Homo sapiens: one gene and its partners. The protein of the gene in region 4 purifies or fractionates together with the protein of the main gene of each other region. This does not show direct contact. Each region holds a gene or a part of one and is shown on either strand. Other genes may lie near its edges.

Region 1 (5,830 bases), on a different chromosome or scaffold from region 4:
GAATGGCATGAATCCAGGAGACGGAGCTTGCAGTGAGCCGAGATAGCACCACTGCACTCCAGCCTGGGTGACAGAGCGAGACTCTGCCTCAAAAAAAAAAAAAAAAAAAAAAAAAAAAAAGGAGGAAGGCCTCCTGGTTGGGCACAATAACTCACACCTGTAATCCCAGCACTTTGGGAGGCTGAGATGGAAGGATTGCTTGAGGCCAGGAGTTAGAAACCAGCCTGGCCAACACAACAAGACCCCGTCTCTACAAAAAACAATTTTTTAATAAATTAGCTAAGCATGGTGGTGTACACCAATGGCCCAGCTACTTGGGAGTCTGAGGTGGGAGGACTGGCTCAGCCCAGGAGGTCAAAGCTATAGTGAGCTATGATCATGCCACTGCACTCCAGCCTGGCCAACATGGTGGAAAAAAAAAATGTAATTTTGCAACTTAATAACATTTTATCAGAAAAAAAGTAAGTTAACATTCATTATGCCACAGACACAGGAAGCCTTTCAGTTTCTCCCTCTCTCCAAAGCCCGCATATGTACACATGGCTACTTGTCCAAGTTTTAAACTAACTTTATTGTAGTTTTAAACTGTTCTTTTTTTTTTTTTTTTTTTTTTTTGAGATATTGTCTCGCACTGTCACCCAGGCTGGCATGCAGCAGTGTGATCTCTGCTCAACCTCTGCCTCCCAGGTTCAAGCGATTCTCCTACCTCAGCCTCCCAAATAGCTGAGACTACAGGTGCACATCACCACGTCCGGCTAATTTTGATATTTTTAGTAGAGATGGGGTTTCACCATGTTGGCCAGGCTGGTCTCAAACTCCTGACTTCAAGTGATCCACCTGCCTCAGCCTCCCAAAGTGCTGGGATTCCAGGCACAAACCACCACACCAGGCCCACCATTCATCTTAAATGAGATTTTCTACCTTAGGTTAAATGGGAAGTTTCTGAAAGTTGAGGAAGAGAGGATGGGAGAAGCAAGCCTGCTCTCTACGCCAACCAAAGGAAATACATCGGACTTGTGCTAAGACAGAATGACAGAAACTCACCTTCATGTAGCAGAAAGTAGCATTTCTCAAATATCCTGTGATGTCTGAGACCCTCAAAGAGCTTTAAGGCCGGGGTTACAAACCCTGAGCCTAGTAAACAACAGTCATCGATGCGATGCCAGATTATCCAACACTTAGAGCTGAAGACACTTACTGGTATCAAAGAAACCCTGTGCAAGCTCCAGCACCCAGCTGCCCCAAGCACTGCGCAGAAACCATCTTCCTGCCCCACCGCAAAGCAGTGCAGGCAGAATGAACCTTCAGAGAGACAAGTGAGAAGCAACGAAGACACAGGAGAACTTCAAGGTCTCCAGTAATCTCTGGGCTGCTAAGTCCAAAGCTGGAGCTCCAGTCCCTAACTCATGTTGCTGCAGCATCTGATACAGAAGTGGGGTGGATCCTCTCCCAGTTTCCACTCCGGGTTTTCTTAACATTCATCTGGCCACCCCTTCCTTCTCAGGATCCTTCAAAAGCTGGTGTTCCCAAGTTCCAGCTGGGGCCTCTGCTCAAGGGGGACACGCTCATTCATGCCTTAATCCCATTTTATGTACCTACTCACCTCCAGATCCAAACAGTCACCTACTGGAGCTATCTCCTTAGATGACCCAAAGGCCATCAAGGCCAAAACTTATCCCAAGGCACCAAACTGGCTCCTTCCCTAAGGAAAAACACCGTCATTTACCTAGTGATCCCTGCCAGTCATTCTTTTTTTTGAGACAGGGTCTGGCTCTGGTGCCCAGGCTAGAGTGCAGTGGTATGAGCATGGCAGCCGCCTTGACTTCCTGGGCGCAAGCGATCCTCCCACCTTGGCCTCCCAAGTAGCTGGGACTACAAGTGCATGCTACCACTCCTGGCTAATTTTTGTATTTTTTGTAGAGATGGGATTTTGCCATGTTGCCCAGGCTGGTCTCAAACTCCTGGGCTCAAGCGATCCTCCCGCGTCAGCCTCCCAAATGCTGGGATTACAGACGTGAGCCACTGCGCCCAGCTCCTGCCAGTCATCCTTGACACTCTGGCTCTCCTACAACCAGTTACCAAGTCCTATCGTTTCCACATTTTAAGTGTCTCTCAAGGGCAGCTCTCACTCCATCCCCACTGACACTGCCTCCCTGCACCCTCAGCCAAATTAAATTGTTGTCTGAGCCGGGTGCTCACAGATGTAATGCCAGCATTTTGGGAGGCCGAGGCAGGTGGATCACCTGAGGCCAGGAGTTTGAGAGCATCCTGGCCAACATGAAACCCCATCTCTAATAAAAATACAAAAATTAGCTGGGCATGGCGGTGCACGCCTATAATGCCAGCTACTCAGGAAGCTGAGACAGGAGAATCGCTTGAACCCGGGAGGCGGAGGTTGCAGTGAGCCAAAATCAAGCCACTGAACTCCAGCCTGGGCACGAGAGCAAGAGTCTGTATCAAAAAAAAAAAAAAAAAAAAAAAAAAAATTTGTCTCTCATTTCCATGATATTGTTTCTGCATTCCTCCTACCTTGGACAGTGCCTGACACCAGGAAGGTGCTTAACAATAATAACGTCTACCGTCATTGCCTACTTTTTGAGAGAGGCACTGCTCTAAGAGTTTTGCACCTATTGTGTATGATCCCTAAAACATCTCTATTTTACAGATACGGAAATTAAGGCATATAGAAGTCAGCTAATGTGCCCATGATCACACGGGAAGTGAACCTGGATTCAAATCCAGTTGGCCTCCAGAGCCCATGCATTAACCATTAAGTTCTACTTCGGTCCAATAAATGATATAGGTTTGCATAAAGAAGTCAATCTGGCAGGGCACAATGGCTCCTGCCCATAATTCTAGCACTCTGGGAGGCTGAGGCCAGCCGATCACTTGAGCCCAGGAATTCGAGACCAGCCTGGAAAACACAAGAAGACCCTGTGTCTACAAAGAATACAAAATTTAGCTGGGTGTGGTGGTGCACACCTGTAGTCCCAGCTACTTGGGAGGCTGAGGTGGAGGGATCACCGGAACCCAGGAGTTTGAGGCTACAGTGAGCTGTGATGGCACCACTGCACTCTAGCCTGGGAGACAGAGTTAAACCCTATCTCAAAAAATGAAAATAAAAAGGAAAAAAAAAATTTTTTTAAGAGTCAATCCCATCAAATGAGAAAAGGCAGAAAAGCATCCATATAATTTTGCAATCGAGACATCAATAGTGATGTAAGCAAAACCCCTTTCACTAGGGTGATAGAGGCAAAAACCAGGTGACAAGGACGAAGGAGTGAGAAGAGAGCATTCTTAACAGCTACCACTTAGAACATGCCATTCCCAGGCACCGTGCCAAGCGCTTAACATATTTTTTAATCCTTGCAACACTGCTAGATAGATACTACTATTCCCACTTTACAGATGAGAAAACTGAAGCAAATGAGCTTAAGTAATTTGTACTAGGTCATGCTGCAAATAAATGGCAGAAATGGATTCTGACTTAATTCATCTGACCCCAAAAGCCATGCTATCAATCACAATGCCAAGGTTGATAAGACAGTTTCAAGTCAAATGCCAAAGTGAAAAAAAAAAACAACTCACATGCCATAGATATACAAAGTGCATTTTAGTCACTGATTTTAACAAAGACACAAGTAAGAGATCAACTTTTTTGAAGTTTAAAATGTTTAACTTAGTTTCTTTTTTTTTCAAGACTGAGTTTCACTCTCATCACCCAGGCTGGAGTGCAATGGCACAATCTCAGCTCACTGCAACCTCTGCTTCCTGGGTTCGAGTGATTCTCCTGCTTCAGACTCCTGACTAAATGGGATTACAGGCGCCCACCAGCAGGCCTAGCTAATTTTTGTATTTTTAGTAGAGACAGGGTTTCACCAAGCTGGTCAGGCTGGTCTTGAATTCCTGACCTCAGGTGATCCACCTGCCTTGGCTTCCCAAAGTGCTGGGATTACAGGTGTGAGCTACCGTGCTCAGCCTATTTTCCATTTCTTTAGCAGGATTCCTCCCATCTCAGCACTCATTCATCAGTTAAGAGTATGAAGCAAAGACTGGCACAGTCTTCTGCCAATAGTGTCTTGTTTCTTAATGTGATACAATTCACAGTGTAGAACAGACTTTCACAATAACTCACGTTTAAAAGGAACCAAAGAGAGACTGGGCATGGTGTTTCATGCCTGTAATCCCAACACTTTGGGAGGCCAAGGTCAGAGGATCACTTGAGCACAGGAGTTCGAGACCAGCCTGGACAACACAGTGAGACCCCGTCCCTAAAAAAAAAAAAAAACAAAACCCAAATTAAAAAAAATTAGCTGGGCATGGTTTCACCTATAGTCCCAGCTAATTGGGAGGGCAAGGCAGGAGGATCAGTTGAGTCCAAGAGTTCAAGGCTACTGTGAGCCACGGCTATGGTCACACCACTGCACTCCAGCCTCGGTGACAGGGAGAAACCTTGTCTCAAAAAAAAAAAAAAGATCAAATAAGAAATTACAAGAGAAAGCATAGTTTTAGTTGCTAAACGTGTAGTTTAGGCAACATCAGTAGTCTCATAAAGACAAAAGGAAAGGAATGTAGGCTGACATAATTACATGTCTGGAACCAGACTTACTTCTAAAACTCAGACTTCCCGTTTATTTCTCCTCACTTACGGTTGTTAATGAATGCATCGTTCCATTTTCAAAATCATGATATAAAACCATGGTAACGTTCAACCCCCCCGCTTCTTAAAAAAATTCACTACAGTCTCAAGATGGAAAATAATTTATCTTTGTTCTTTAGTTTTTTAAATAATTGCCAACCATCTTAAACACCAAAATTAAAAGTACTCCCATATTAAAATTTAATAATCTGGGGCTTAATTTTTAAGAAAACAAGTCATGAGGGATGCCAAGATCAAACAAAAGCTAATAGTTCAGTATGAAACCTTTCTGTAACCAAACTCAGTGTGTAAGACTGGGACATGTTTGAAAAACAGCACTTGTAACCAAACAACACAAAAGTCCAAACGGCAGTGTTTCGAAGGCTGTGTCATGTACTCCCCAGGATCACACTCAGGTATGTAATCACACGCAGAAAAAACACTACAGACCTCTTGTCAAATGTATTTGATTCGTACATGAGAAAGTTAACTTAAGGATTTCCATGTTCGAAATCAATCTAAATGAAAATTCAATTTGCTAAAACCTCTATCTTTCCTCCTTTCTGTTTTTTCATTTTAAAGAAAGGCCAAGGTTCTTTGTCCATTTTTCTTTCTTTTCTTTTTTTTTTTTTTTGTTTCAGATGGAGTCTTGCTCTGTCACCCAGGCTGGACTGCAGTGGTGCGAACCCGGCTCACCACAACCTCCACATCCCAGGTTCAAGTGATTCTCCTGCTTCAGCCTCCTGAGTAGCTGAAGTAGCTTGTAAGCATGCTTACAACCATGTGCCACCACGCCCAGCTAATTCTTGTACTTTTAGTAGAGACAGGGTTTCACCATGTTGGCCAGGTTAGTCTCGAACTCCTGACCTCAAGCAATCCACCAGCCTTGGCCTCCCAAAGTGCTGGCATTACAGGCGTAAGCCACGGTGCCTGGCTGCCCATTTTTCAATTGGATTTTTTGTTTTCTTGCTACTGAGTTGTTTGAGCTTTGTATATATTTTGGATATTAACCCCTTTTCAGACGTATGGTTTGCAAGTAGCTTCTCCAAATCCCTAGGGATTAAAAAATGGGCAAGGGACACGAACAGATGTTTCTCAAGAGACCGACAAATGGCCAACAGATATAGTTGGCCAACATATCACAATCACTAGAGAAGTGCAAATTAAAATCACAATGAGATATCATCTCGC
Region 2 (5,830 bases), on a different chromosome or scaffold from region 4:
GTACCAGCCTTGGAGTGATTTTTTTTCTGTGGTGTAATACCTCGTACTCGAGCCACTGTTTGAAGTCTGTGTAGGTCTCGTCTCTAGGGGAGGTGGCCGGCTGGATTCTAGGGCACTGTGGCGTGTCTCCTGGGTGTGCTGAGAATGCTCTACACTCTAGGGATGGGAGCATTGCTAATTGTTTTGGGATTACTGTGAGGAGGCCTTTGAGAGCCAAGAGGTGTGTGTGTGGACTGTAAGCCACACCTGAGGTGAGCGTGCTATGGTGTATGTACATGGGTGACCTGGAAATGGAGGGCTTATGCTGGGGTGTGTCCATGGGAGGTAGGAGGGGGCACCTTGGCCAGCCTAGTGGGGAAGTAAAATGAGCTCTGGTCCCTTGGGGCTCATTTTTGTCCTTCTGTGAGGGCTTCAGGCTTTCCCAGTGCACCCAGAGTGATTTTTGGGCTGCTTTGCCAGACTTTTGGGTGGTTGCAGCTGGCTTGAGTAACAGCAGGGGGAGGGAGATCCAGTTTATAACGGGGCTGGGAAAGTAAGGTCAGAGGAACTCTTTGTTAAAGGTCCTTTTGCTGCTGCCGCCGCTACTGCTGACTTTGTGAAGTGTTTAGTGAAGTCAGGCAGGTTGCTGAAGGCTTCTTATTTGCTTTCCAGTTTGAGTTTCCTGAATGAGTGTGTGTGTGTGCATATGTGCACGCACGTGCTTGTGTGTGGTACCAGTGAGCATGTGTAGTCAGGCAGGCATAAGCCCCTAGCATTAAAAATTGTTTTTCCTTCTCCTCACCCTTCTCTCCAAGTATTCCTTGCCTCATTCCTGTCCTGCTTCTTCTTGGAAGTGCAAAGCTGACATCTGTTCTTTATCATTCTTCCTCTCTTTTTCTCTTTTTGTCCCCACCCCCACCTCCAGGTTAAATTTTTATTACAACTATTCCAAACAGAGATGAGCCTTGTTCCCAGGCTTTGAGTTAGTTGGTAGTTCTGGGCCCAGGAAACCTCTGGTTTGACTGGCCAGGGGTACTTGAAATTTGGAGGTATTGCCATTTGTCCCCTTTTGTATCTGGGAGCCAGCAGAAGAATCTGACTGGAATCTGTTCCACTGAGGCCCCTGCAGGCCTCTGAAGAAAACCGCTGGTGGGATGAAGCTTCTAATTAGCCAAGTTACCATTTGACAGAGGCAGGTTGAGTTTTCTACCATGATGACTTCCCCCCGCCCCAGGTTATTTCTTGCATTTTGAAGGGTGAGGTTATTTGTAAAACTTACTTGAGTACCAGCTGTCTGTGTGAAAGACTAAATATTTTTGAAGATAGGGCTGGAGGAGGGAGTAGTGGGAAGAAGAGGGGAGAAGGAAGTAAATGTGTTAGCAGAGGAGTGGAGGGGGGAGGTGGAAATGTGACCACAGAGGAGAGGACCCTGGTGATGAATACTTTGTACATGTGTGGATGTGCGTGCTTGTGTATGTGTGTGTGTGTCTGTCATATACAGACACATAGACACTTTAGGTGGTGGCTGCCTTGTGCCTAGCCAGTGACAGGTTGTACAAGGTACACCAGCATGCCTCTGAGGAATGAAATCTCCTTCTGGTCGGCCTTTTTCTTTGGCATCTATAATTTCCTGTCCACCACATAGTGGGGGCAGGGTTTGGGGAGCAGAATGTGGGCTGCTTTGTTAGTATTAGGACTTAGCGCAGTGGCTCATGCCTGTAATCCCAGCACTTGGGGAGGCCGAGGCAGGCAGATCACTTGAGGTCAGGAGTTCGAGACCAGCCTGGCCAACATGGTAAAACCCCCGTCTCTACTAAAAATACAAAAATTAGCCCCGTGTGGCTGTTGTGCGCCTGTAGTCCCAGCTACTCGGAAGGCTGAGGCAGGAGAATCCCTTGCACCTGGGAGGCGGAGGTTGCAGTGAGCTGAGATCTTAGCCTGGATGACAGAGTGAGACTCTGTCTTAAAAAAAAAAAAAAAAAAGAACTTAGTGAGGCCTCAGGAAATCAGTTGATCTAGCCCCCTGCCTTCAGGCAGGTGAGGGTGTCTGAATAGACAAATGGTGATCTATTTTCATTCTTACATTGTCTAGGAGTAGAGACTCCACATCCTCTGGCTGCTGTATTTTTACCTTGTGGGAAGATAGTCCAAATCTTGAGGCACATCTGGAGCTGCATTTTAGTAGCAGGGTCCTGCTTGCAGCAGGTGCTTAGGAACAAGTGTGAGTTGATTTATAGCTGCCTGCAGCACAGCTCTGGGCCAGCCAGATGGCTTGAGAAGTCTGGTCAGGCATGTGGGTGCCCCTTAATGAAAAACGCATAATGTTAGCAGTGCTGGCAGATGTCCTTTTATTTTTGGATTATGCCTTTACATATCTTCTAGAAGACTTTTCAAATGAGTGACCTGTAATTTTCAGTGGACACATAGTAGATTGAATACATAAAACAAAAAAAGTTGTCCATCCTGGGGCCAGTTAGCTCTGTATTGTTAGAGTGTTTCTTTTTTTTTTTAATTATTTTTTATTTTTTATTTATTTTTTGAGACAGGGCCTTGCCCCATCACCCAGGCTGGAGTGCAGTGGCATGATCTCTGCTTTTGCAACCTCTGCCTCCCGGGTTCAAGCACTTCTCCTGCCTCAGCCTCCCGAGTAGCTGGGATTACAGACACCTGCCAAATACAAATAATTTTTGTATTTTCAGTAGAGACAGGGTTTCACCATGTTGGCCAGGCTTGTCTCGAACTCCTGACCTCAAGTTATCCACCTGCCTCAGCCTCCCCAAGTGCTGGGATTACAGGCATGAGCCACTGCGCCCGGCCTGTTAGAGGTGTTTCTGAAGAAGCCGGGGGGTCTCTCTCGGGCCGCTGTCACCGAGTAGAAATTTGGCCAAATATTCACTAAGCCTCTTGCAACTCCAAGAACCTGAAATTCTGTATAACTCTGTGTCTGTCTGGAAGACTCAAATACACACAAAAGGAGATTATAGATTACCAGTAGGTTGCTATATTTAAATATAATTGTATTCATGGTAAACGTATTTAAGTTTAAAAGCAGAGTGAAAAATGGTATAATGCTTAAAGAAAAAGGATTTTCTAATTAATTCTTAGGGTGAGGTATTTAAGAAATGTGAGTGTGTATTGCTAGTTTCAGCTTTGAGCACATGAACAATTTTCAGTTCTTTCTGCTTAAGCTCTATCCAGCTTGTGCGATGAACACATAGCTACCAGCTTGGCCTGAAGTGTTAGGACACTGTAGCAGAATGCCACTGACAACCTAGGAGACATCCAGCTACTGAAAGGCTATCGTGGTATTCAGTCAAATTCAACTTCCTGATAAAGTGTGATCCTGGAGAAAGGAACAAGTGCACTGTCTCCTGGAATTGGCTTCCAGCTTTCTCTTTTAGCTTTCTGACCTGGCCACTAGTGGGATCAAGGTCCTCAGACTTCTCTTGTGGCAAGAATGACTATGAGACTCTTGACCCCTGAAGCAGAAGCAGTTTGCTGCTATAATCAGTGCTTATGGTCTCACTGTGTCCTCTGTATATGAAGGAAATCTTATCAAGGCACTGTCAGACCAGGTTCTGTCAGGTTGGTCCCCATTAGAGCTTTTGATGTATATATTGGCAGAAGAGTCATTGAATTGGATGAACTGAAAACAGCTTTGTAACACTGCTTAGTAATCAATAGTAATCAATACAAACAATACTTTTCTAGCCTATCCAAATTCTACCCCTCTTTCAAATTCTTTCTTGAGTCTTTCTTCATGAAAACTTTCCAGTAATTTCTGCATTCATTGGGCTAATTGTACACACCGCTCATTCAACAGATAATCACATGACATTTCTTATAGTTTGGAGCTATATGGTGATTACACTTCTCACTGTTGTTGTCCCCCGCAGCTAGTCTCTTTCAAGGTCAGAGACTATGTTCAATGGCTGTGTAGCCCCCACAGTGCTCTCTACCATGCCTTACATAGAGTAGATGGCCAATAAGTGTTGCTGAATTAAAACATTCTAGATGTACTTAAAATTTAACAATCTTGACCCACAGAATCATAGGATGGTAGATCTGGAAAGGGCTTTGGAGACTATCTCCCTCCTTGTGTGGGGTGAGGAAACCAGGCCCACAGAAGTGAGTTTCCTTTATCAAGATGAGTTGACCAGCCAACGTCTCTATACTGACTCAGGGCTTTTTCTTCTAATTTCGACATTTTATCTCATTGTTCATTGTTACCCTTTGGCTATGGAATCCTGAAGATATTCAAACACACATGCTTTAGTAAAGTGTACATAGTACCAAATACTAGGCCAGCATATTCCAGATTCTTGCGAGCTAGTGTGTGTGTTACCCAGTGGCATCTAGGCTCTTTGGGTCTCCCAAGCTTATGCTCCTAGAAAATGAAGGCATCTTTGCAGAGAACTGATGGTATTGCAGCATGGCATTTCTGGTAGCCTTGCAGGAACAGGGAAGCCTATCAGGAGCTTTGTGAGTTAACAAGGGATCATCACTGCTGTGGCCACTCCTGGTCCCTGCTGCCAAGATGAGGATGGCTTGGAGAAAAATCAAGCAATGTGTGCTCTGTACATTGTTACTTAGTGACTTATCCTGATGAAAGGGGCAGTGTGGGCTGGGCGCAGTGGCTCATGCCTGTAATCCCAGCACTTTGGGATGCTGAGGCAGGTGGATCACTTGAGGTCAGGAGTTCGAGACCAGCCGGGCCAACATGGTGAAACCCTGTCTCTACTAAAAGTACAAAAAGTCAGCTGGGCTTGGTGGTGCACACCTGTATTCCCAGCTACTTGGGAGGCTGAGGCAGGAGAATCACTTGAACTTGGGAGGCGGAGGTTGCAGTGAGCCGAGATTGTGCCATTGCACTCCAGCCTGGGCAACAAAACAAGAACAAAACTCCATCTAAATAAATAAATAAATAAATAAAATAGAAAAAAGAAAGAGGAGGTGTGTCTGGCAGACAGGTGAAATAGAAAAAGCAGACCTGATAATATGAACTTACTAGGTTTGAGGAGACACAAGACTATGTAGACCAAAGCCAAACTTTGACATACCAGAATGTTAGTGCCCACAGTGACAAGGTCCAGGTTCCTGAAGAGCATCCTTATGTGAGATTGGGAAGAGGAAAAAGTGACTATATTGTGCTCTGTAACCAAGAGTGCATTCTCTGGGGAATGACTCTATGGAGGTCAGTCTTGGCTTTATCTAGCTTCGGATTCTGTCTGTGACTTGACTAACCAAATGAGTTTTAGAAAGGCATAGTTGCCTCTTTGGTATCAATCTGTTACAGTACTTAGCTAAACTTAACTTCCTGATGAAGTATGTTCCTTGAGAGAGAGTTCTTCCCAAGAGTTCCTTGGGTTGTATCTCCTGAACAGTTTGCTTTCTTTTTCTTTTCTTTTTCTTTTTTTTTCTTTGAGACGGAGTTTCATTCTTGTTGCCCAGGCTGGAGTGCAATGGCACAATCTCGGCTCACTGCAACCTCCGCCTCCCGGGTTCAAGCGATTCTCCTGCCTCAGCCTCCTGAGTAGCTGGGATTACAGGCATGCGCCACCACGCCTTGCTAATTTTGTATTTTTTAGTAGAGACAGAGTTTCTCCGTGTTGGCCAGGCTGGTCTCGAACTCCTGACTTCAGGTGATCCGCCCGCCTCTGCCTCCCAAAGTGCTGGGATTACAGGCGTGAGCTACTGCACCTGGCGGCAGTTTGCTTTCTTTTAATAATTCTTTTTTTTCCTCTTTTTTTTTTTTTTTTTGAGATAGGGTCTCCCTCTCTTGCCTAGGCTGGAGTGCAGTGGTGTGATCTTGGCTCACTGCATCCTCTGCCTCCTGGGCTTAAACAGTCCT
Region 3 (6,566 bases), about 120 Mb from region 4:
AACCCTTAAAGACAAGCATCCAAGAATAAGTTAACTCTCCCTCAGCAAAATGCTTCAAAACAGAGAGTGGAGATGAATAGGAGAGAGTGCTTTCTGGGCCAGGTCTTCCTGAGGGGAGAGAGTAGAACTGACCTAAGGGCATGAGGTAAATGTGCTGAGGTTAAAAAAAAAAGTGTGCTGAGGTAAAAAGACTAGAGCAGCATGCACATTCACTTCAGGTATACATGGTCAGCCAAGTGAGTGGGAAAAATAGTTTAAACAGTGCAGATGGTCACCCTACCATTCCAATAAATGGGTATATGCCCCACCATGGGCATGGGATGAGCTTCCAGAACTGTGAGAAAATAAATTTCTGTAGTTTAAGCCACTCAGGCTATGGTATTTTCTCACGGCAGCCTGGGGACACCAAGATAAACTCTCACATTTGTATCTGCAGCTCATATCTTTCTGAGCATTAGATGTGCATATCCAACAGCATATCTGACATGCCTATTGAATGTCTCTTATTAAACTAAATGTCCATAACAGAACTCAATTTCTCTCAAACCTGTTCCTAACCCTCAATTTTCTATCTCAGTAACTAGCACCACCATTTACACAGTTGTTCAAACAAAAAACTTCAGAATCATCTTTGATTTGTTCCTTTCTCTCACTGCTTCTCCTCTGGAATCCAATCTTCCTGCTACGTCTTGTTTGCTCACTTCTAAGGATACTTACAATTCAGTTTTCCATTTCCACTCCTGCTATCCTTACCGGGGCCATAAACCATCATAGCCCAGGCACCCAACACCTCTCACTACCATAAAGAGCTTTCTAACTTCCCTTCACTTCTGCTTTATTTTCCATAGCTGGTAGAGTGGTCTTTTGAAGTTATGCAATTAGACTGCCCTGCATGGTAACTTCTCAGATCTTTTCTGGTTTCCTCCACAGCATTTTATACAATTTTATTGATTTGTTTTTGTTGGTCCCTTTTGTCTCCACCAAGTTCTATGGAGGTAATGTTCTCTCATATAGTATACAAAGCCTGATTCATCACTGGGACTCAGTCATTTGGGCAGAAAGAGGGGGAAAGAAAACAAAGTAAAATATGTATCGTGGTAGATGGTGGTAAGTCCTATGGAAAAAGTAAAGCAGAGAAAGGAATATGAAGAGTTGGGGTGGGGGGAAGTTGACAATGTTAAATAGAGTAGTCAGGTGACATTTGAGTAAAGACCTGAAGAACATAAAGGAATGAGAATAATATCTACGGAAAGGAAATTCTGTGAAGGGGAAACATCGTGCAAAGTTTCAAGGAGGGAGCATGCCTGGGATTTTTGAGCAAAGCCGTGCAGTGGAAGCCTAGGACTTGAGGAGAAAAAGTCAGAGGGGGATCAGGTGGGAGTGGTGTCAGATCATGTTGGACCTTGATGGCCACAGTGAGGAATACTGGCCTTTACTCTAGGACTAGAAGTGATTTAAGATGACACACATAATGTGCCAAGTTTTAACTGGTTACTCTGGCTGGTGTGTTGAGAAGAGTCCAAGCAAGACATGTTGGGAACTTGGCTAGGACAAGTACAGACTACAGATTCCAATTTTTCTTAAAAGCTAGTGGTACCTAAAAACTACATTTGAAACTAACAACTAAGAGAAGTCTTAAACTGGACTGATATTATGCATATTATTAACCTTTAAAGTGGTTCCTATACTATACTCCACGGAAATATTTCAAAGTAAGAAAATCCCATTTGTATTAAGATGCTTATACCTAAGTTTTTGTAGACAAATTGTGGAAAGAACCTAAATATCTAACAAATGGGAAATATTGAATGTAGCAGAATATTACATGGCCATTAAAAATAACTATATGGGCCGGGTGCGGTGGCTCATGCTTGTAATCCCAGCACTTTGGGAAGCCGAGGTGGGTGGATCACAAGGTCAGGAGTTGAGACCAGCCTGGCCAACACCGTGAAACCCCGTCTGTACTAAAAATACAAAAATTAGTTGGGTGTGGTGGTGGGCACCTGTAATCCCAGCTACTTGGGAGGCTGAGGCAGGAGAATCGCTTGAACCTGGGAGGCAGAGGTTGCAGTGAGCCAAGATCGCGCCACTGCACTCCAGCCAGGGCGACAGAGCTAGACTCTTTCTCAAAAATAAATAAATAAAAATAAACAACAACAACAACAAGTAAGTATATGGGGCTGGGTGCGGTGGCTCACACCTGTAATCCCAGCACTCTGGGAGGCCGAGGACAGATCACCTGAGGTCAGGAGTTTGAGACCAGCCCGACCAACATGGAGAAACCCCGTCGCTACTAAAAATACAAAATTAGCCGGGCGTGATGGCGCATGCCTGTAATCTCAGCTACTCGGGAGGCTGAGGCAGGAGAATCGCTTGAACCCAGGAGGCGGAGGTTGCGGTGAGCCGAGATCTCGCCATTGCACTCCAGCCTGGGCAACAGGAGCAAAACTCCGTCTCATAAACAAACAAACAAAAAACTATATGGACTATGCTAGTATGGGAAAGTCATCAGAAAATAATTTAGTGTAAATAGAGAACACAAATGTATATTAAATACAGTTTATGTAAAAATCATTTCCACAATAAAGAAGGGCCTAAAATAGTCATGGTCTTATTATAGTTCTTGTAATAGGTGTTCCTCTGTAAAAGTACTTGGTGGGTTTTATTAACTCCGAATTTAAAGTTCATTATATAATATTTATATCTGAGTTATTTACCTTGGGGTTTTCCAGCTTGTAGTACATTACTGATGTCACAATAAGCATATGACATCAAAAAATATATATAAGGGACTTTTTGCAAAACCTTTGTTGGGTAAGAGCTAATTTCCACAGTAAAAACAGACACCAAAGTTAAAACAACTAGAACGCTTTGATTCAAGAAGCTAGTTAAAAGCTAATAAAATTCAATACATGGTTTTCAAGGTAGTTTATTTGACCTAGTTTCGTCCAATGTCTGAACAGATCAGATTTCAGCAATAAAATTACCTTACTTTCAGGGAACTGATGAATACTTGCAAAACAGTGCCCTTCTAAGCAGCTATATTAATATATTCTATTTTCTCGACCCGGTCCCACCTCCACCTGTAGCATGACTTGAAGAACCGTGAACAAGAAATTAGACAGGTTTATATCCTAAGAGTAGGCTCGTTTACATTAGATGGTTTTCAGGACTGTCAGGGCAGAAATGGGGTAAGGGTGTCTCTTTCCCAACCATAGATGGGTAGAAGAAAGTGTACAGGCTGATGGTGCAGAACCCTCTTACCTCCAGTTTCTGTAATTCCCACACGCATAGGGGAACCGCAACCACTATTGACACCAGGTAGATGACCGCTACTAAAGGTCGAATCCACTGTCTCCAGTTCCTCCAGGTACAAGTGCAAGGCATGTTTTCGCACAAATCAGATCCGGTTAGCAAGGGAAAAGATCTCGAAAAGATTGTAATGGGGAGCCCTGTTCTCTGGCTGTTTTGTCAACTCGCATACTACGGAGAAAAAGCTGTCGGGCGACTTTACGAACAGCTCGAGCCGCCTCCTGGACCGGCGCTGTGTCTTCTGCTGCTGCTGCTTCTGCAAATGTAGCCTCTCAGGGTGCTATTGGCGAGCAGTGCAGGCAACATCCTTTCTTCTCCACCCCGCATCTACCCGGTTGTACTGCGGTGGAATCCCAGGCAGAGCCGCTGCCCTCACCTGGGGATCGCCCTGAGCTCTGCCTGTACCATGGCTTCCAGGAGAGCAGCACAGACCAGGAACCGGCCTCTAGGGACCCTGCACACTCCGGTTCTGTCTCGCAGCTGCCTGCCCACTCGCTCTTTTCTTTGGGGATCGAGCTTCCTACCTCCCGCACTGGCAGGCGTCTCTTCAGTCGATTCCGCTAGTAGGTAAGGCCCCAGGATCTCCTCATTCTTTCGCACGGGACCTCCCCTACAGCGGAACCCAAGGCCAAACCAAGACTTTCAGCTCTTTTCCGCTTCCGCCCCTGCTGTCTGAGGCAGGTGATTCGTCGTCAGCGCCAAACTGGGCCCGCCCCATCCGACTCACTTTGCGCCCTCTGATTGGTCAGCTGTGGGGGCGGGGCTGCAGGATTGCGTACTGGGGTTAGAAAGAAGAGCAGGTGCGTGGAAGTGGGTGGAATTGCCGCAGATGGTCCAGCGGGCTATTGCAAGGATTCTGGAAGCTGCGGGAATTATTTGAGGACACTTGAAGCACACCTACTACATTCTTCTGCTGGCGTTATTCCAGTTTAAAGAAAGCTTGGGTAAGGGGCGGTTACTTCAGAGTTGGACTGGAAGAGAGAAGGCCCATCTCTACACAAAACATCCCCTATTCAATCTAGAGTGGATACAGAAGCCCGCTGGAGTAAGAAGACAAGGAAGAATGGGAAACCTCCACCTAGTTTTCTGTCAGTTGCTAGAATCTAGGGGCTAGGCCGCTTGGTTATTTCTGGATCCTACAGAAGGATCATTCTAAAGGTAGCTTCATTTTAGAATTAACCGCAAATAGGGAATGTCCCTTCTACATTTGGAACTTGTGTTAAAAATTTGCACTCATTTAAGTTTTAAAAAGTTGACATTCCATCTGACAAAGGAGTTTCATATGCTTAAAGCCTTTAGCTAAACCAATAGAGTAAACAAATATCTACTACTCAATTACATATACAAATGCGTTTTATATTGTAATTGTAATTTTCAGGGGGACAGGCACTGTACTAAGTTCATTACCTACATTATGTAAGTTGTTCTGCACAAAAATTTTGAGAGGTAGGCATTTTTCCACTTTACAGATAAAAAAGTCAAGTGGCTGATAAATTTGCCCAGGCTCACTGAGCTAGTTAAGTGGTAGTGTGGAGATAGCAACCTTGGTCTTTGTGACTCCAAAGGGCATTATATTTAAGCATTTGACCTGCTAGTACCTGCCACCTGGGGAATTTCCGCCTAATGACCATACGGATAAGGAGGCTTGTAACATTGAGTACACCTAGCCCAGGAGTCTCACAGAGACACCTAAGGAATATTATGAGCCCCTTTTTTGGTATCGTCTGTTTGGACTTGACTTCACTGCCTACTTCTCAGTTGTTAACATTTGTATTTTACAACCTGACCCAAACTACTTTCTACCGGAAAAATAGGCCTTATGTTTGTTCTTCCTAAGCTTACTTTAAAAATGGAAATTAAGGCTGGGTGCAGGGGCTCATGCCTGTAATCCCAGCAGTTTGGGAGGCGGAGGTGGGCGGATCATGAGGTCAGGAAATCGAGACTATCCTGGCTAACACAGTGAAACTCCGTCTCTACCAAAAATACAAAAAATTAGCCAGTTGTGGTGGCGGGAGCCTGTAGTCCCAGGTACTCAGGAGGCTGAGGCAGGAGAATGGCGTGAACCCGGGAGGCGGAGCTTGCAGTGAGCCGAGATCAAGCCACTGCACTCCAGCCTGGGCGACAGAGCGAGACTCTGTCTCAAAAAATAAATAAATAAATAAATAAATAAAATTAATTAAAAAAAATTCCTGATCATTAAATTAATGCTTGCTCTGTTGTTAAAGTTCATAAAAAAGAAGAATAATGAAGAGAAAGTTAATTTTACTCTACGGCCAAGTATAACTACTCTTTACTTGTTTGGTACACAGTAGAGGCTATCTTGGATATGCCGTATGCGTAGATTGTCTCTGTGCTTTCAGCTACAGCGTTTTTGCTGCCTATAATCTTTCCCATTCTTTCTCATGGGCAAACTTTTTTTGCCTAATTTGTGAGACCTTCCTTTATTTTTGTTTCCCCATGTATTCTTACAGCATTTATATGGTATTATACTCATTTACTTATTTGTCTTGTTTAGATTTTGAATTCCTAAAGCAAAAATCTAAATCCATTAGAAAAAAGCAAAAGAGAGAAGAGATGAGACAGATGCACAAATGATTTCACATACCAGTTTGCGAACTGGAATTCTTCTATGGTGAAATTTCTTCAGCTCAGCAGAGAAATTAAAAACAAAATTACAGATTGAGTATGCCAAATCTGAAAATCTGAAATTCAGAATGCTCCCAAATCCAAAACTTTTTGAGTACTTATATGATGCTCAAAGGAAATGCTCCTTGAAACACTTCAGATTTTGGATTTTCAGATTTGAGATGCTCAACTGGTATGTATAATGCAAATGTTCCCCAATCTGAAAAAATCTGAAATCCAGAACACTTCTGGTCCAAAGCATTTCAGATGAGATATATGAATTTTTCATTTAGTTAAATTTCTTCACTCTTAAGGACCATGTTTTATTTTGAAATTGTCTATCCTATTTTTTAATATGATAATAGATAGTAGTTGTTCTTCAGATATTTTTACTTTGGAGAATAAAAAGTTGATAGCTTTATTTGCCTACCATTTGTTTCATTTTTTTCTCTTGACCTGTAAGATCCTAAAGTCTAGTAAGGATAGGGAATAGGCCATAATGCTGATGTGATCCTAATCTACTTGCTTTGCTTGCTATAGGCATTCTCTGCATTCTTTCTGGATATGAGAGCCTAAGCCTGAAGGTGGATCTGAGCTTGATGGTGTTTGAAAAATAAGAAATGGTTAAA
Region 4 (5,830 bases):
GATGCCTGTATTACAAGCTACTCAGGAGGCTGAGGTGGGAGGATCACCTGAGCCCAGCAGGACAAGGCTGCAGTGAGCCATGATTGCATCCCTATACTCCAGCCTGGGCACGAGACCCTGTCTCAAAAAAAAGAAAAGAACAGAAAGGATGTGGGTGCCAGGCGCATGATGGTATGTGCCTATAGTCCCAGCTACTCAGGAGGCTGAGGTGGGAGGATCACCTGAGCCCAGCAGGATGAGGCTGCACCTGAGCCCAGCAGGATGAGGCTGCAGTGAGCCATGATAAAGAGAAAAGATGTGGGTGCCAGGCACATGATGGTATGTGCCTGTAGTCCCAGCTACTCAGGAGGCTGAGGCAGGAGGACTGCATAAGCAGAGAAATTTAAGGCCAGTCTGGGCAACACAGCAACACCCTGTCTCTTAAAAAAACAAAACAAGAGAAAAGAAAAAAATTTTGTATAAAGGCTGAAAGGACAATACAAGTCTTTAAGCACATTGGTTATCTCTGCCTTCAATAGGATCTCTGGATCCCCTGATATTTTCCTGCCTTCTGAATGCTAGTTCTTTATCCTCTTTTTGTTAGCATCGTCAGATCTCACAGAGACAAGACACATTCCTTTAAGTACTTTGTGGATCTACACTACAATCAATTTACTAGTTACCAGTCACTCATGACTCTTGGACTACTACCAAAAAAGGGGCTCCACTTTAGGTTCTATCATTAGGAATAATTACTGAAATATTCAGATATAAGCAGGTTGTAAATTAAAAGTCCATGGTTAAAAATAAAGTCTGGCTTACCTTTGTTTTAGGTACAATGCTCAGATGAAGCTTGTTGTCCACAAGATAGGCACCCGCTTCGGAAAGGTACCCCTGATTAGGAATCAGGCAGCCTCGGCCAAAGCAGCAAGGGCAGCAGACCTTATGGACATATTTGGTCCATTTTGGATTGAGTTGACCATAAGGCTCTTCTGATTTGGGTTTAAACACACCAATAATTTTCTAGAGCAAAAAAGTAAAAATCTTATTAGACTTTTTACATATATAGATAATCATCCATAAAATGCATTCTAATAAATTGTTCTCTACTGCTTCCTACCACAGATGTAGGCATAAATCCCCAAACTATTAAGAGGATTTATAAACCTCAACTATTAAGAGATTTAGTTCCAATCACATTTTCATATTCATTCTTATTCAACAATCTAAAATCAAGACCAGTTTTCAAACTGTGCTCTGACAAACCCTGGGAAGGTGGGGGCAAGGCTCCAAGACCCCATGCCACTTAACCAGATTAACTCTAATTTCACCTGTTTTATATTGCTGGACTTCCAAGTTAAGAAACAGTTTCACTGGGCCGGGCACGGTGGCTCACACCTGTAATCCAGCACTTTGGGAGGCCGAGGCGGGCGGATCATGAGGTCAGGAGATCGAGACCATCCTGGCTAACATGGTGAAACCCCATCTCTACTAAAAATACAAAAAATTAGCCGGGCGTGGTGGAGGGCACCTGTAGTCTCAGCTACTCAGGAGGCTGAGGCTGGAGAATGGCATGAACCCAGGAGGCAGAGCTTGCAGTGAGCGGAGATCGCACCACTGCACTCCAGCCTGGGTGACAGAGCGAGACTCTGTCTCAAAAAAAAAAAAAAGGAAAGACTTTCACTGATTTTTAAATGTTTCAAAACCACCATTCTAGGTCAAACAGTGTTATTATTCACTATCTATTAAATATCCACATTACATGTTTGCTGTTTACTTTCCCCACATTAATGTACATTCTAATAAGGCAAGGACTTGGTTTGTTAGGGCTGCATTTCCAGTAGTCAGAACAGTATCTGATGAACAGTGGACATCCAAGTATTTGTTAAATTAACTAATCCAATGACAAAAACTACCTCTAAAATACAAATATAATGATAAGATACAGTGTACATCCATGCTGTCAGATTCTCGTACCCTAATTCTTTTCCAGCTATTTTTTCAGGAACCAATTTAAAGTAAACTCTTGGCCAGGCGCTGTGGCTCACACCTGTAATCCCAGCACTTTGGGAGGTGAGCAGATCACTTGAGGTCAGGAGACCAGCCTGGTCAACATGGGGAAATCCCGTCTCTACTCAAAATACAACAATTAGCTCGGCGTGGTGGCGAGCGCCTGTAATCCCGGCTACTCAGGAGGCTGTGGCAGGATAATCGCTTGAACCCGGGAGGTGGAGGTTGCAGTGAGCCGAGACTGTGCTACTGCACTCCAGCCTGGGCGACAGAGTGAGAATCCATCTTAACAAATAAATTGATTAAATTCTCTCGTATTAAAAAATCTTTTTTTGCTCATGAATGTCTAAAAGTCTCTGTACTCTTATTGTTTGATACAATATACTCATATTCAATTTAGAAGCTGAATTATCCTTAGACAAGAACAAATCTTATTATAATTTTAAGTATATAATTGCTTTATAACACAATAAATATAATGCAATAAGGTCTGAGTCACTAGTAAAAAAGTCAACAAGATCAAATTAAGAAATCAAGCTTAGAATAAAGATTGAGAGATTGACAGTACCTTCAAATACATTTTAATCTTAAAAAAGGGACTATGCTTTAAAATCATTTTAAAAATAGAACTTCTATCTTTGCCAAAAAAATTGGGTGAAATTATAAACGTTATTCCCCTGGAGAAAAGAACTGCTCATTATGCATCATTCAGAAAGCTTTTAGAAAAAATAACATATTTTTGAAAAATTCTAGACTAAGTGGAGCAAAGTGCCACATCAACTTCTCTTTTCCACTTTAGAATCATCCTGTGGTTCATTTCACTTTCACATTCCAATACTTTCAAGCTTCAGATTGCTAAGCCTCCTTCCCCTGGTAAAATGCCAGAAAAGGTATTCACATACCTTTGAAAAAAAATCAAGTACTTTGGAAATGACATTAAACAACTTTTGAAGGTTTAACCTTCCACCGTGTTTGGCTATTAAGGTTATAGACTTCCATAAGATAAGGACTTGTGAATATATATACTCAAAAAGGCTACAGCTGAATGTGGGTATTCAATAAATGCTTGAAACCAAGTATAAAATAACAAAATAGCAAACTGTGACTTGAACTGATTAGCTCTGTTTCTAAGCACTAGAGTGCTTTAGTAAAAGCAAAACATTGAGGCTGGGCACAGTGGCTCACACCTGTAATCTCAACACTTTGGGAGCCAAAGCCGAGGTTTGCTTGAGCCCAGGAGTTCAAGACCAGCCAGGGCAATATAGGGAGACCACCGTCTCTACAAATAATTACAAAAATTAGCCCAGTGTGGTGGCACGCAACTATGGTCCCACCTACTTGGGAGGCTGAGATGGGAGGATTGCCTGAGCCCAGGTGGTCAAGGTTACAGTGAGCTATGATTGCACCACTGCACTCCAGCCTGGGTAAGAGAGGGCGACCCCGGGCGTCTCAAAAAACAAACAAAAACTGACCTTTGTTTTGGAAAAGAGGTTACAATCAGACTTAATAGGAAAATATCTTTAGAAACTCACAATGATTTCATATTTAAATTAGTATTTACCAAAGTTTCCATTACATATAATAGGTCTGTGAAATTCTCACCCTCTTAGGATCCTTCACAAAGTAACTTCCACTTGAACCTTGAGAGATTCTTTCTGGAAAAATTCCAACTTCTATTGCTTGCTCTGCTCTCAGCATAATATCGGCAAATTCTGGGTCATCCAAGAATGCATTCATCTCTGAAGTACCAATAGTTACTGCATTAAGAAGAAATACCAGCTATGAGAATGCTCATGATATGGACCTGTAATATCGATTAGCTTGCCGGTATCAGGATATAAGGTACAGAAAAATGTAATCAAGATTTGTATAGACTGCTCTAATCCTCCTTCCCCCCACTGCCTAACAACCCCCACTTCTCTTAAATTTCCAAATAATAACATGGGGGCGGGGGCGGGCACAGTGGCTCACGCCTGTAATCCCAGCACTTTAGGAGGCTGAGGCGAGTGGATCACCTGAGGTCAGGAGAGTTCAAGACCAGCCTGGCCAACATGGCAAAACCCCGTGTCTACTAAAAATACAAAAAATTAGCCAGATGTGGTGGTGGGCACCTGTAATTCCAGCTACTCGGAAGGCTGAGGCAGGAGAATCACTTGAATCTGGGAGGTGGAGGTTGCAGTGAGCAGAGATTGCGCCACTGCACTCCAGCCTGGGCAATAAGAGCGAGACACCGTCCAAATAATAATAATAACAACAACAACAACAACAACATGGGAGGAAGTTAACTGTTCATTAAAAATAATACTAATACCTCTCATTTCTTTGAACTTCGGTCCTGCAATGATTCTATCATCCATCCTACTTCATCCTCTAGTTCCCCAATCATATCTCGGATTTTGTCAATACCAGTAACTGCAACCTCACCACACTTTCAATTTCAAGCACCTCCTGTCTTCCCAGTTCAGTCCCTCTGGCACTCCGAGTCCAAATATTCTTCTGCCCTACTAGAACCTACAAAGGACTGCTCCCCCACGTCACTGGAATTCTCTCCCTTCATGTCCTTGCTTCCCTCCTCCTTGGCCAGCTTAAATTATGCTGGGTCTTCACAAAATCAACTCTTTCTTTCTCCCTTCATCATGGTCACCTGCAAAACTCCCAGTCCTGGTTAAACCCAACTGTCTACCAACTCCATGCCTGCACCAGGGCAGCGGAATTAAAGAAATGCACATGAGCCAATTTCTCTCCTCAAATTCCCAACACCTCCTCTTCCATCCTCTCTCTCAGGAGAGGATCTAGCTTCCTATTTCATTAAGAAATAAGCAGCAATCACAAAATACTACGACCAGCCCCCAGCACTGCATTTATTACCAACTACTTAACTTTGGAATGGCCCAGGTTCCATTCACAGTCCTCTTCTCTCCGTTACCAACACTGGTGACTCCCAAATTTCTAATTCAAGCCTGGACTTCTGCCCTAAACTCGACAACTGTATTCAACATCTCCACTTGGATGCGTAATAGACATCTCAAACTTCACTACCCAAAACTTCATTCTTCACCTTTACGCCTCCCAAAGGCTTCATCCCTACGTTTCCCATATTGCAGTTGCTGGCACCTCCAAATCTTCCAGTTGCTTAGGCCAAAAACCTTATAATCATCCATGATCTCACACGCTTACCCTCTACATCCAATCAGCAGGTTGTATTGGCTCTACCTTAAATAAATACCCAGAATCCAACCACCTCTTGCCATCTCCATTCCTTCCACATGATTCAGGTTACCATCGGCTCTCACCTCGATTATTCTAAGAGCCTCCTAACTGGTCTCCCTCTCTCACCCAGTCCCTCTCTATACCTAACAGAGAAGCTAGTAATACTTTTTCTTTGTAACTTTTAAGTTCAAGGGTACAAGTGCAGGTTACATAGGTAAACTTCTATCTTGGGGGTTTGTTGTACAGATTATTTCATCACCTAGGTATTAAACTGGTAAGAACAGATACTACACTTGATCTTAGCCAAAAGACAGAGAAGCAATCACTCAGGTATTAAGCAATCACCCAGGTAATCACTAGGTATTAAACCTAGTACCCATTAGTTACTGTTCCTGACTCTCCCTCCTCCTACCCTCCACCTTCTGAAAGGCCCTGGTATATGTTGTTCCCCTCTATGTGTCTGTGTGTTCTCATCATTTAGCTCCCACTTATTAGTGAGAACACGTGGTTGTTTGGTTTTCTGTTCCTGTGTTAGTTCACTGAGGCTAATGGCCTCCTGCTCCATTCATGTCCTTGCAAAGGACATGATCTCGTTCTTTTTTATGGCTCTTAAAACATTCTCCCTCTCCCT
Region 5 (5,830 bases), about 140 Mb from region 4:
TAGTGAGCAGAGATTGGAGAACAAGCTCTCTTGTCTCTCTGTTAAAGGCACTAATTACATCCAAGGAGCTCCACCCTCATGACCTATCATCTCCTAATACCATCACATTGAGGGTTAGAATTTCAATATAAAAATTTTGGAGGGGAGGGCACAAACATCCAGTCCACAGCAGTGAGTTTCTTGTAATCTCAGAAGTCTTCTTACATAACTAAATTGTTGTTCAGAATTGATTTGGGTCCTTTGTGATTTATTGATCATTAATTTAAAATTCAATTAACTTGGGGATGTATTGAAAACTTGACAATGTGAAACTAATTTTGCTATACATTAACTACTAAAAAAACCACTACCGTTCATTAAGTCACCACCCAATCCCAATCACTTTTCTTACATTATCTCATTTAATCCTCAAAACAACTAGAGGTATTCATTTTTACTCCGGTTTTGCCAAAAATGAAGTTAAAGCTCAGATATATTACATAACTTAAAGTCATTCAGTTAGAAAATAGCAGAGCTGATATCTGAGTTTAATTCTGTTTGACTCCAAGACAAACATTTTTTCCATTTCATTGTGTAAGCTTAATTATATCTCTCCTTGCAAAGGGATAAATACCACATAATCAGACTTGAAAGTTTTCCATGGTGTTATTCTAAATGATTTTGACTCATTTGAATTTGCATTTCTTGAAGTTTCTCATAAAAGGTTTGACTCAATTGTTTAAATGCCAGGACTACATTGTCACGCTTATTTTCACATAGTTCACTCAAGGAGTCACTGTATAAATGATAATAATAATAAAAAAATAATGAGCCCACATTTTTATAACAATCAATATTATTAAAAGGTTAGCAGAAGTAATTCCCCCCAAAATCTATCAGATGTAAATATGGAGAAAAAGTACGCAGAATATTAATAAAATGCACAGTTATCTTGTAAAATCTTTACAACATACATCATGTATCTTGAGAAAGATAAAGATATATACCTTCACACAGTTCTTCTTTTTTTCTTTTTTCTTTTTCTTTTTTTTTTTTTTTTTTTTTGAGACAGAGTCTCGCTCTGTTGCCCAGGTTGGAGTGCAGTGGCGTGATCTGATCTCGGCTCACTGCAACCTCTGCCTCCTGGGTTCAAGCAATTCTCTGCCTCAGCCTCCTGAGTAGCTGGGATTATAGGCACCCGGCTAATTTTTATATTTTTAGTAGCGACAGGGTTTCACCATCTTGGCCAGGCTGGTCTTGAACTCCTGACCTCGTGATCCACCCGCCTCGGCCTCTCAAAGTGCTGGGATTACAGGCGTGGGCCACCGTGTCCGGCCACAGTTCCTCTTTATATTACACCTAAACTTGCTCTGTGAGTTTGTAAGACCACAGAATTCCATATTCTTAGAACCTAGAAGTGTTATTCAACTTCTTTTCTTCTCTTTACACATCTCATGAAAGCCATATGGACTTCCTAATATAGGGACAATTATTTTTAAAAACCCACAGTCACCCAATTCAGTGGAAAAAAATTCTGTCCCTATCCATATATCTTAGGATAGAAGCTGGGGTGAATGAGAGGAGACATAGAAAAGTGAGTCCCTCAGCTACCTGACATGCTATTCGAGCATTGCAATCAATTGGGATTTGACATTTTGCCATCCTTTTCGTTTTCATGCTCCACCTTATTCACTCTAGAGCAGAGTTTCAGTTTTTTACTAGTCCTCAGTGGCTGAATATTAGGAATGATCACATCTTTATCTCTAAGTCTGAAATTCCTCCAGAGTTTCAGACATATTATTCTATTGACTGCTGAACATTTCCCCCTGGATGTCTTATAGACAACACATGTGACATTTTAAATTCCAACTCATACTTTTTTATTGTCAGTTCTGAAGTCATCATCATGTATTCCCTACTTTCATTAACACTATCATTAACCAAATTAGAAACCCAATTTGTCATAATATCTCTTTCCCCATTGCATGAATTCCTCCTCTTAAATATTTCTCCAATCCTTATCATTCATTTCTACCACCACTGCCTAATTCAAGCCTTCATTTTCTCTCACCTGGAATATGGGTATAGCCTCCAGCTTTAGCTCCCTGCTTTCAGTTTCTCTACCTCTTGAGTTAATCTATATACCCTGCCAGAATAATATCTCTAAAACATAGATCTATGTCGTACTCATCCTTAGAAACTCCCCTTTGTCTACCATTTGTCTCACCTTTGTCTACCATTTTAAATCCAAACTTCATTGCCTAACAAATAAGACCCTTCGCATATACAACCAAATTCCTTTCAAAGACTCCACACTCACTTCTCAGCATTTTCCCCAGTCCCTGTCACAACCTCCACATTCTGTACTCCACCATCATTAGCTTGGGGCCTATCCCCGAATACATCAGGACCTTTAATATTTCTGCACATTTGGATACACTATTCTCCCTGCTTAAAATCTGACTACCCTAATTATTCTACTTAATTATCCTAATTAACTAGAATTATATTAAGTATAATTAATCTACTTAATGAATTTTCACTTCTCCTTTAAGACCTGATTGGAAATTACATCTTCTATAATGCTTTTTCCGATTATAGTAGCATTAATCATAAAGTTATTTATGTTATCTTAGTATTTTGTGTATAACTCAATCATAGCACTTACCACATATGACTGTCTACAAGAAAGTTTCTCCCATGACATTGAAGTGCCTGGAAGAGTGCCTCTAACACAGTAAGACCTTGATACTTTTATAATTGATAAATGAATGAAGGAATTATTTTTCCTGTTTAAACTCTTGAGATACATTTAAAATCTCCAAAGTTTCTCAGGCTACTCAAAGAGGTTGTAGCTTTGGTAGCTATAAGCCACTTGAGGAATCCTTTATGTAGAGATACTCCAAGTGGGCAAAGGAGGGTCATCCTAAGACTTTCACTCTTTGTAGAAAGCTTCCCAAAGGGTCAGACTCGGCTCAGACCAAGGAAAACCACAAATATGTCCTCACTAACAAGGAACTCTAAATAAATATTCTCCTTCCAAAACTGAATTTACGTGAAAAACCACATACACTTGATAAAGAAGTAAGGACTAGAGGTAAGGAAAATGGAGCTAGACAAAAACTGGATGACCAATGGAGCATAGAGAAAGGAGTGCCCACATAGAGTTCATATTTGCTTGGGTCTCTGTTGAGCATTGGGCAGATGAACATAGGAAATCAATGGGAGCTGCCAGAGTCTGGGAAAGGCACTGGGTACGAGAAAGATTTAACTGCTTTGAAGTGGATATAAACCAGAGACCTACTGAAGTCATTTATCTGACTCAGTGTGACTGCTCAGCATTTGTAGAAATTGAGTATAGTGAGAATATAGCGAGGCCTGGAGATTTATGAAGTCATGAGGAAGAGCCTTCCAGGCTCTGATCCGAATGAAATTCAATTACAAATGGATTTGAGATGAATCTTAATACAAAAAAAACAGCGTGACAGTGTCCTGAGGAATGGGTCTACAGAGCCTTTGGATAGCTGAATTGTAGAGAACCTGGGAGGCTCAATAGTATCTTCAGAGTGCTCCTTCATGAGAATCACAAACTTACACAAAGGAAGAGCTATATGTTTGCTAAACTATCATTAAATAATTGAGAAAATCAAACTCAGCATGAAACATACCTGATAGCCTGAATGTTGAATGCAAAATCTTTCAAACACTTTAAAAGCTGTCCCATACGCATCCTAAAGAGAACAACATTTCTTAATTAAAAAGTATAAAAACATAAACATAAAAGAATTAACTCAAACTTTAATAGTGGTCTGTCCATGGCAGTTAATTTATCTGCCAAATGCACTCCCAGTTAAGCATTCTATTGTATTAATCATAATGAAATTGAGAGGCATAGGTAAAAACCACAAAAAAAATTATTAAAGAGATAATTTGACCATTATCAAAGGGGGAGGGTGAAATATAAAAGTAAAGCATAGAAGGGTCAATGAGGACTACAGATTAAAGTGAAAACAAAACAAGTTGATAGACTAATATTATTTCTACTTACTTCTTCTACTTTCTTAGTTCTATTTCTACTTTCTTAGTTCTTCATAACTAAGAACTAGACCTAAGAAAAACAGATGTAGCTCAAGATTTGTCAAGAATAGGAGAACATTGAACAAGATGCAAGATGCCTCTGCCACACTGTCTCTCCTACCAGAAATGACTGGGAGTCAGGGTGGCTTCTTCCTACAGGAAAATGGTATGCAAAAGACTTCCAGCGGTTTCCACAGCCATCACAGATGCCAGCAGTTCTTGCTACAAGAGAGTCTCCCAGTCCTCACAGGCCCAGAATCTATTTTGGAGAGTTGCCAGAAGTTTAAGTAGTTTCGTTGCCCCAGAGTAAGAGCCCACATTGTGTATCTCCTCCTTCATGACCTAAGCAGCTATGGCATGATGACATTTTGAAGGCCAGTAGCCAATCTCTCTCTCCATCCCTGAAGCCCCACTATCATTTCACATCCAAAGCTATGTGGCAGCCCACCACCCACTGGGGAAAAGGCAGACATGCACAGCAAGAAAACCACTGAACAGGTGGCCAGGCCACTGCACCAGTGCATACTCGTGCTGCGCAGCCAGAAAAACCACCATGCCTGCACCAACCCATGCCAAGCCTGGCAGCCAGGGCAGAGGTGGCCCCACCTCCTGAAAAGACTGCGGCATGCCAGTCAGCCCAGCATGCATTTGCATGTGCCTGGCCTGACAGCCAGTTCAGCAGAGGCCTCACCTTCCCAGGGACACTGCCACACAGCCAGCAGTCCCACTACACATGCACTTGGCCCAATATCCAGTTCAACAGCAGCCCGACCTCCCCATAGACACTGCCACACAGCTGGCCAGCCCACATATGCCTGCACTCAAACCAACAGCAGTCCAACAGTGGTCTTACCTCCTCCAGAGACACTACTGCACAGCTGGCTGGCTCACTGCACCCACAGATACCCAGCTCAAGAGCCAGCCTGGTGATAGCCTCACTTCTCTGGAGAGTCCACCATACAGCCTGCTGGCACACTGAACCAAAATATTCCTGCCCCAAATAACCAGCTCAGTGCCCCTGCCCCCACCAAAACCATACCACCAACATCTGTAGCCTATCCTCCTGTAGATATCATACAAAAGAACCAAAAAAATCGTGGAGCTAAAGAATTCAATGCATTAAGTTTTAAAAGAATGAGAGCTTTAGCAACAGACTAGATCAAGCTAAAGAAATAATTTCTGAATTTGAAGACTGGTCTTTTGAAATAACCAGTCAAAGAGGGAAAAAGAATAAAAAGGAATTAAGAAACCATATAGGACTTATGGGACACCATTAAATGAACAAATATTCACCTTATAGGGGCACCAGAGGGAGAAGTAGAGAGATATTTTGTTATTATTATTAACAAAATAATAGCTGAAAACTTCCCATGTCTTGGGAGATATATGCATCTAAGAAGCTCAAAAGTCCCCAATTAGTTTCAACCCACAAAGATACTCTCTGAGGCACATTATAACCAAACTGTCAAAAGTCAAAGACAAAGAATTCTAAATGCTGAAGAGAAAAGCATCAAGTCACACATAACGGAATCCTCATGAGACTATCAGCAGATTCCCAGCAGAAACCTCACAGGCCAGGAAAGAATGGAATGATATATTCAAAGCGCTGAAAGAAAAAGAAAAGTCAGTCAAGAATACTACATCCAGGAAAGCTATCCTTCAGAAATGAAGGAGAAATAAAGATCTTCCCAGACAAGCAAAAGCTGAGGAAATTTATCACTACTAGTCTAGGCTTACAAGAAATTCTTAAGTGAATGCTACAACTAAAAATGAA

Evidence for each region.
Region 1: the proteins of PI4K2B (region 4) and TMEM248 fractionate together in Homo sapiens (co-fractionation; one large-scale study listed by BioGRID). This does not show direct contact.
Region 2: the proteins of PI4K2B (region 4) and ZDHHC9 fractionate together in Homo sapiens (co-fractionation; one large-scale study listed by BioGRID). This does not show direct contact.
Region 3: the proteins of PI4K2B (region 4) and TMEM184C fractionate together in Homo sapiens (co-fractionation; one large-scale study listed by BioGRID). This does not show direct contact.
Region 5: the proteins of PI4K2B (region 4) and DDX60L purify together in Homo sapiens (affinity purification with mass spectrometry, with the first as the bait; one large-scale study listed by BioGRID). This does not show direct contact.

Annotation. Positions count from the first base shown.
Region 1 is NC_000007.14:66,926,083-66,931,912, reverse strand, and holds part of TMEM248 (transmembrane protein 248), read right to left. Parts: intron 4,154-5,830; exon of another isoform or gene 4,136-4,153; intron 1,299-4,135; exon of another isoform or gene 1,051-1,298; coding exon of another isoform or gene 1,045-1,050; intron 1-1,044.
Region 2 is NC_000023.11:129,835,356-129,841,185, reverse strand, and holds part of ZDHHC9 (palmitoyltransferase ZDHHC9), read left to right. Parts: intron 1-5,830. UniProt on the Homo sapiens protein: Palmitoyltransferase that catalyzes the addition of palmitate onto various protein substrates, such as ADRB2, GSDMD, HRAS, NRAS and CGAS. The ZDHHC9-GOLGA7 complex is a palmitoyltransferase specific for HRAS and NRAS.
Region 3 is NC_000004.12:147,614,778-147,621,343, reverse strand, and holds the start of TMEM184C (transmembrane protein 184C), read right to left. Parts: upstream 3,948-6,566; 5' UTR 3,388-3,947; coding exon 3,265-3,387; intron 1-3,264. UniProt on the Homo sapiens protein: Possible tumor suppressor which may play a role in cell growth.
Region 4 is NC_000004.12:25,250,237-25,256,066, reverse strand, and holds part of PI4K2B (phosphatidylinositol 4-kinase type 2-beta), read right to left. Parts: intron 5,523-5,830; exon of another isoform or gene 5,428-5,522; intron 3,747-5,427; coding exon 3,592-3,746; intron 1,003-3,591; coding exon 802-1,002; intron 1-801. UniProt on the Homo sapiens protein: Together with PI4K2A and the type III PI4Ks (PIK4CA and PIK4CB) it contributes to the overall PI4-kinase activity of the cell. This contribution may be especially significant in plasma membrane, endosomal and Golgi compartments.
Region 5 is NC_000004.12:168,357,502-168,363,331, forward strand, and holds part of DDX60L (probable ATP-dependent RNA helicase DDX60-like), read right to left. Parts: intron 3,711-5,830; coding exon 3,648-3,710; intron 776-3,647; coding exon 646-775; 3' UTR 1-645.